Homo sapiens: one gene and its partner. The protein of the gene in region 1 interacts with the protein of each later gene in a biochemical or structural test. Each region holds a gene or a part of one and is shown in the gene's direction. Other genes may lie near its edges.

Region 1 (3,241 bases):
GTTGTGTGAGACTAATTGAGGTCAGGAAACACTTGAATATATAATCACTTAGTTTGTCTTCATTTCTAGCTCTCTGTAATTATTTTGCCTCTTTATGTTTGAGTAACATGGTCTTCCAGTGGAAAGTTTCTATCAGAAATAGCATTGTGGTATCCAGAATAAACTTGTCAGCTTGCCAAATGATTAGTAACCCAGATAATTTTGAATGATCTTTTCGTAGTTAGGTCTTTCATGTGGGTCACCTAGTTCACTATTGCTATAAACATAATCCTTTTTTGTTTTTCTTTGATGTGTTTTCAGATCAGGGTGTTGACAGAAAGTATGTTCAAACATCTTCGGAAATGGGTCGTCACTCGCTTTTTTGGGCATTCTCGGCAAAGAGCAAGGCTAGTCTCCAAAGATGGAAGGTGCAACATAGAATTTGGCAATGTGGAGGCACAGTCAAGGTTTATATTCTTTGTGGACATCTGGACAACGGTACTTGACCTCAAGTGGAGATACAAAATGACCATTTTCATCACAGCCTTCTTGGGGAGTTGGTTTTTCTTTGGTCTCCTGTGGTATGCAGTAGCGTACATTCACAAAGACCTCCCGGAATTCCATCCTTCTGCCAATCACACTCCCTGTGTGGAGAATATTAATGGCTTGACCTCAGCTTTTCTGTTTTCTCTGGAGACTCAAGTGACCATTGGATATGGATTCAGGTGTGTGACAGAACAGTGTGCCACTGCCATTTTTCTGCTTATCTTTCAGTCTATACTTGGAGTTATAATCAATTCTTTCATGTGTGGGGCCATCTTAGCCAAGATCTCCAGGCCCAAAAAACGTGCCAAGACCATTACGTTCAGCAAGAACGCAGTGATCAGCAAACGGGGAGGGAAGCTTTGCCTCCTAATCCGAGTGGCTAATCTCAGGAAGAGCCTTCTTATTGGCAGTCACATTTATGGAAAGCTTCTGAAGACCACAGTCACTCCTGAAGGAGAGACCATTATTTTGGACCAGATCAATATCAACTTTGTAGTTGACGCTGGGAATGAAAATTTATTCTTCATCTCCCCATTGACAATTTACCATGTCATTGATCACAACAGCCCTTTCTTCCACATGGCAGCGGAGACCCTTCTCCAGCAGGACTTTGAATTAGTGGTGTTTTTAGATGGCACAGTGGAGTCCACCAGTGCTACCTGCCAAGTCCGGACATCCTATGTCCCAGAGGAGGTGCTTTGGGGCTACCGTTTTGCTCCCATAGTATCCAAGACAAAGGAAGGGAAATACCGAGTGGATTTCCATAACTTTAGCAAGACAGTGGAAGTGGAGACCCCTCACTGTGCCATGTGCCTTTATAATGAGAAAGATGTTAGAGCCAGGATGAAGAGAGGCTATGACAACCCCAACTTCATCTTGTCAGAAGTCAATGAAACAGATGACACCAAAATGTAACAGTGGCTTTTCAACGGGAGTAAAGCAAAGTCTCTAAAGCTCCTAGTACCTAGAAGCATTATGAAGCAGTCAACAATTTAGGGGTACGAAAGTAGGATGAGAGCCTTCAAAGTCTACCAGCACAAAGACCCCTGAGCCCCGCAATTGTGATCCCACAAGACATGCATCTCCACAAGGCTACTGTATTAGAACGTGCAATGCATTTATATGAAACTGGTGTATGGAAGACATAGGTGCTCTCTTGAAATCTTAAATATGATTATTTGAGCTCATATAAGGTGGATTGGAGCAGATAAAATTATCAAAAGTTTCATGAACAGGCCAAACAAAATATTTTTTAAAGTTTCCTTAAAGAAGTTATGAACTTTAGAAAGGATCAGGGGACAATAATAATCTCATTTTGATTCTACTGATAAGAATGACTCCACTTTTAATGTGGACTTTTACTCATGGAAAAATTGTCTCCTAATTTGGGGAGATGAACCAACCAATCAATGACAAGAAAACGCTTACACAAAGAACAATTTGAGGCTCTAAGCTTCTCATGTGGTACGTTTAGACAGAGGCTAAATCTGCACACTAGAATCTTGATGATACCTTCCTGCAAGACAGAATGCTTTAGTTAAAAGTGGTGATGATATTTCTTTCAATCTGTATTGGATGGCTTAAAGGGCTATAAATCTGTTTATAAAGAGCATTTCCTGCTCTTCGAAGACAGCAATGAGGAGTTGGAAGGTGCAAAGTCAGTAGAGAAGGGAATGTATCATTAATGCACCTGAGAAGAAACAGTTTCATGTGTTCCTCCACCTAGAGTTTGTACTGGAATGCTATTTCTAAAGAAGAAGTGGGAAAGAGAGAGGAATGGGATGGAGCCCCACAGTCAGAATGTTACTATGTCTTTCTTTCCCTGACAGCCCATCTTCCTAAAAGGGACCAGCTTATGGAAGGCTCGACCTTGAGGGGAAAGTTTTACTGTGAAAGTCTTCTTCAGATCCCCACCTGCATCATTCCGAATGTGTCCTGGAAAAAAACTGGTACTCAAAGCTGCTTAGGAATCAAAATGTTTTCAGTGTGTTGATTAATATAGTAAATTTCTGAAACTGTGCATGCACTTTGATTATTATTATTACTATGCATTAACTGAGTCAGGTTCCAGGTGAAAATCCTCTTGCAGAGAGGACCCTCTCCTGGAAGGGGCGGGAGGAGTGGAGAGGAAGCAGATAGGACACATTTGTTGTCTGGAGTCCTCAGGAGGAAATGACCCTGGCCACAGACACACCCCTTCCGGTACAGCTCCATCACGCCTCTCCAGTGTGAGTCTTGGCACATAAAACGGCAGCTGCCCACAGTTGTTGGGAGGGATGGCTTATGTTTTTCCATGCCTGGGCTGTATTTGTACAGATCCATGCACCACTCTGGTCCTTCTGACTAAGAACAGTGGGAAGTCTGATGGTTTTAGGGTTGCACACCTTGTCAGTGGCCATAACAGTGGCCATAGCTGGCCCATGTGGAACTCTCACTCTGTACCTGTGAGTGCTTTGGCACCACAATTTAATGTGCTGACAGGAAAAAGAAATCAGGTATCACAAGCTTGAGGGAGCTGGAATTCTCTGCTGGCCCACTGTCATGATGTAGCCCCTTCATAAACTGGAGGGAAACTGTGTTGACACTTGTTCCCATCAGCATGCACTCTTCCTGGTGTATTCTCCTGCTGGCTGGCAGCATGCATGTAGATGGCTGGAAGTGAGATGGTCATAAGCAATCCATTCCCTTTGATTGTTTAGGGAGGTGAACAACATAC
Region 2 (3,500 bases), on another chromosome or scaffold:
AGAAGTCTTACACTGTGATTTTAAAATGTTTCTAGTGAATCTCATAAGCTGTGCTTCAACCAGAGCTTTCACAAACCTCTTTAAAAGTTATTTCTAGTACCAATTTTCCTTTTTTTAAAAAAAAAACAAAAACTTCATGTACCTAGTACCCATTTCAAATTTTTATTTTGATGAAACAAATTCCTGAGATTAAGGAAATCAGCGAAGCAAATTATACCTAATTGTTGATTCAGGTGAATGAAAAACCAAGTGGAACAGTTTTGATAATTAGTTACCAACCTTTCATTTAAACAGTGCTTTTACTTTCTAAAACATATTTCTTTGTAAATTTAACGTGTACTGAGAGAAAAGACCTCTTCATTGTCAAGTTAGTTTGCCATACTATAAATCCTGGAACAGATTTAGAGAAGTTACTTAAATTATAAGCGTGTGCCACAGTTGCCGGCACCTGTCCTGTTGAGTCTTCTGTCTGCTCCCTCCCACCCCAGATCTGTTCTCCATACAGCAGCCAGTGTGATGTTTTTAAAAATGTCAATTAGATCACACCACTCCTCTGTGCAGAACCCTCTGTTTCCTTCCCATTCATCTCACCCAAAATAGCATGCAAAATCCTCCCGTGATCTGAAAGGCCCTCCATGGTCTGCCTCACAACTCCCTCTCTGATGGTGTCAGAGAGATCCTACTTCGTGATCTCCTATCACAATCTTCCATGTGCATCCCATCTGCAGCCTCACCAGCCTCCTTGCTGTCAGGTGTGTGTTGCTACAGGGACAGGTACAGCTGGTTTCTAACCCTGGTATACATTCCACAGATAGTTAACAAGCCTCTGTCTTCCTCATGACATTTGGGTCTCTGCTCAAAGATCTTATCCAAGCAGGCTTTGTGACTCACCTATCTAAAACAGGTATCCCACGCACAGACACAGAAACGGACATTCTCTTCCCTTAAGCTTTTTTATTTATCTTCGTATTACTGTTTCCACTTGACATGTTTTGTTTTTTTGTTACATGTTTCTCAGTAGAACTAAAACATAAACTACATGAGAGCAGAGATTTAAAATCTTTGGTTCACTTTTGTGTCCCTAATGCCTAGAACACTGCGTGGCACATAAAGAATTCACTCAGTAAGTATTTGTTGAGATAATGGCTGAAAGACAATTTTGAAATGCTGGTTAAATGTATAGCACAACAATACAGTTCTCATCATGACTGTGCAGCTCTAAAACATCATCTGCTAACAGGTGATGACTTATGTCCTTAATATTATCTTCATTTTATAAGTGAGAAATTTAAGGTATAGAGAGGCTAAATAACATCTCTAAAATCGCATAGTAAGTGATAAGAGACAGGGTCTCTAGGTTTGCCTCATTCAGCCTCGTCCCAGAGCACAGCTCCAGGGAGCACGCCATTTATATGGAATGCCTGTGAAGAGCGCCCCCTGGAGGCATGCGATGCAGGGGCTTTTTTCCTTCTCTTTTTGCCACCAACCAAGGCCATACTTGTAGTCCCCCTGGTGTCCCATGGGTTTATGAAAAGAGTTCTCCATCATTTTACAATATAATATGCTTCTCTTTGAGTACTAGTTGAGTTTTTCTTTTCTACGGGAACATTTTTAAAGCTGTTGAGGACTGTTGTTTCTTTTCTACGGAAACATTTTTAAAGCTATCAATTGTAAAGCTATTGATAGCTTTAAAAATGTTTCTTGAGAAAACACTTAATTGGATAGGTGACACTAAAAGCTTTTTTAAAAAGTTCCACACAGCTTATGTTTTTTTTTATAAATCGGATATATTCAAGTTGTCAACATTGTGGGGAATCTCAACCTAAATTGTACCCATATTCATATCTATACCCCTAAGGCCAAGCTCAGCAAATAGTAGACTCCTGTTGTAGATGGAATCTTATACATCATCTAGAATAGATATTTTATAGAAGGCAACTGATGACGAATGATTGTTTTATGAAGTTTTAAAATGTAAAAAAATCTTACAACCTGTGGCTGTTTCACAGGCCCATGCGATCTTATCAGAACAGTGGCATCATATTTTCTTCCTACATAATAACAACAATATAATCAGATTACATTGGAGTAGTAAAAAAATGTGCTGGATATATCTGTTAATATTTCTTCCTAGTTATGAAGTATAGAAATAAAACAATTATGTTATTAAAGAGAAGATTTTGGCTAAAATAGAAAATAAAGATCTGTATAATTCTATATACATATAGATTGATGTAAATAAATAATTTTATTTACTAAGAATAAAAGTACTCTCTAATTAGTTCCTATCTTATTTGACTTTCGCCCTCCTTCCCCCGCTGCTCACCTTCTGCTGTGCGGCCCAGCTCCTAACCGGCCATGGACCAGTACCAGTCTGCAGCGCAGGAGTTGAGGACCCCTGCTATATACTAAGGTTGCAGGAGGCATACAGGCATACAAAACAAAATGAATACATTTTGTTTTTAAATTTGGAATATTACTCATTAACAGTATTTTGTTTACTGTTCCCACCCCCCACTTTATAAAGCTGCATAGTAAGTCCTGAAAATAAATTTCAACTTCTTTTATAAGTAAACACAAACCTCAACAATGTGAGCTGTTCATGAGTAATCTCACGGTGAATAGCAGATATTACAATGTGTTCTAAAATCCTGACTTCCTACACTTCTCTAATTTATACCACTCATTACTAGTAATACAAAAATGCTACGACTGTTACCTACACTCAGGGTTTCATCTTAACTTTCTTTCTCCATAGTTTTGTCATATCTCTTAAGACTCCTCCTCCATCTTACCCCAACATTGGCTGCGTGTGTGCTCAGTTGAGGGTTAGCCCTAAGTTAAATTGAATTTGATGGTCACAGCCTTATTGGCACTGCCATATCAAGATGATTTAGAAGTGTTAGATTTGGTAAGATATAGCTGGATTACATTGTCCATACAGGGGAACTTAGCTCCCTGAAATTTACCCAAAGGGAAGAGGTGACCATTCCCTATACCCAGTTTCTCCCTTTGGGAGCTCTGGGCTCAGTGCCAGTGGTGATATGACAGGACGATGCAATGAGCACCCAGCCCTTCTTTAATACTAATTCAGGCTGAGTCTTAGCAAATAGTCTGTTTATAAAGAGAAATCATATACTTTATCATCTTACATCTTTTATAAAGAGAAATCATGTACTTATCATCTTTATATGTCTTTTTCATATATTGGCTTTTCCCAAAAATGTGATGCCATTGGTACTTAAGCTTAGAGATTTTTGCTTCCACTATTTGAGTAACGATGTGAGGTAATTTAAAAAATAATAAAATAGTCCGGGTGCAGTGGCTTGCGCCCGTAATCCCAGCACTTTGGGAGGCTGAGGCAGTCAGATCACTTGAGGTTGGGAGTTCAAGACCAGCCTGGCCAACACAGTGAAACTCCATCTCTACAAAAAAAAATACAAAAATATTAGCTGGGCGTGGTGGGGTGCCTGTGAGCCCAGCTACTTGGGAGGCGGAGG

The links.
Region 2: the proteins of KCNJ1 (region 1) and ARHGAP21 interact in a test that uses a peptide from one of them, tested with the Homo sapiens proteins (one large-scale study listed by IntAct).

The regions. Positions count from the first base shown.
Region 1 is NC_000011.10:128,837,324-128,840,564, reverse strand, and holds the end of KCNJ1 (ATP-sensitive inward rectifier potassium channel 1), read left to right. Parts: intron 1-300; coding exon of another isoform or gene 301-321; coding exon 322-1,440; 3' UTR 1,441-2,545; downstream 2,546-3,241. UniProt on the Homo sapiens protein: Inward rectifier potassium channels are characterized by a greater tendency to allow potassium to flow into the cell rather than out of it.
Region 2 is NC_000010.11:24,615,888-24,619,387, reverse strand, and holds part of ARHGAP21 (rho GTPase-activating protein 21), read left to right. Parts: intron 1-3,500. UniProt on the Homo sapiens protein: Functions as a GTPase-activating protein (GAP) for RHOA and CDC42. Downstream partner of ARF1 which may control Golgi apparatus structure and function. Also required for CTNNA1 recruitment to adherens junctions.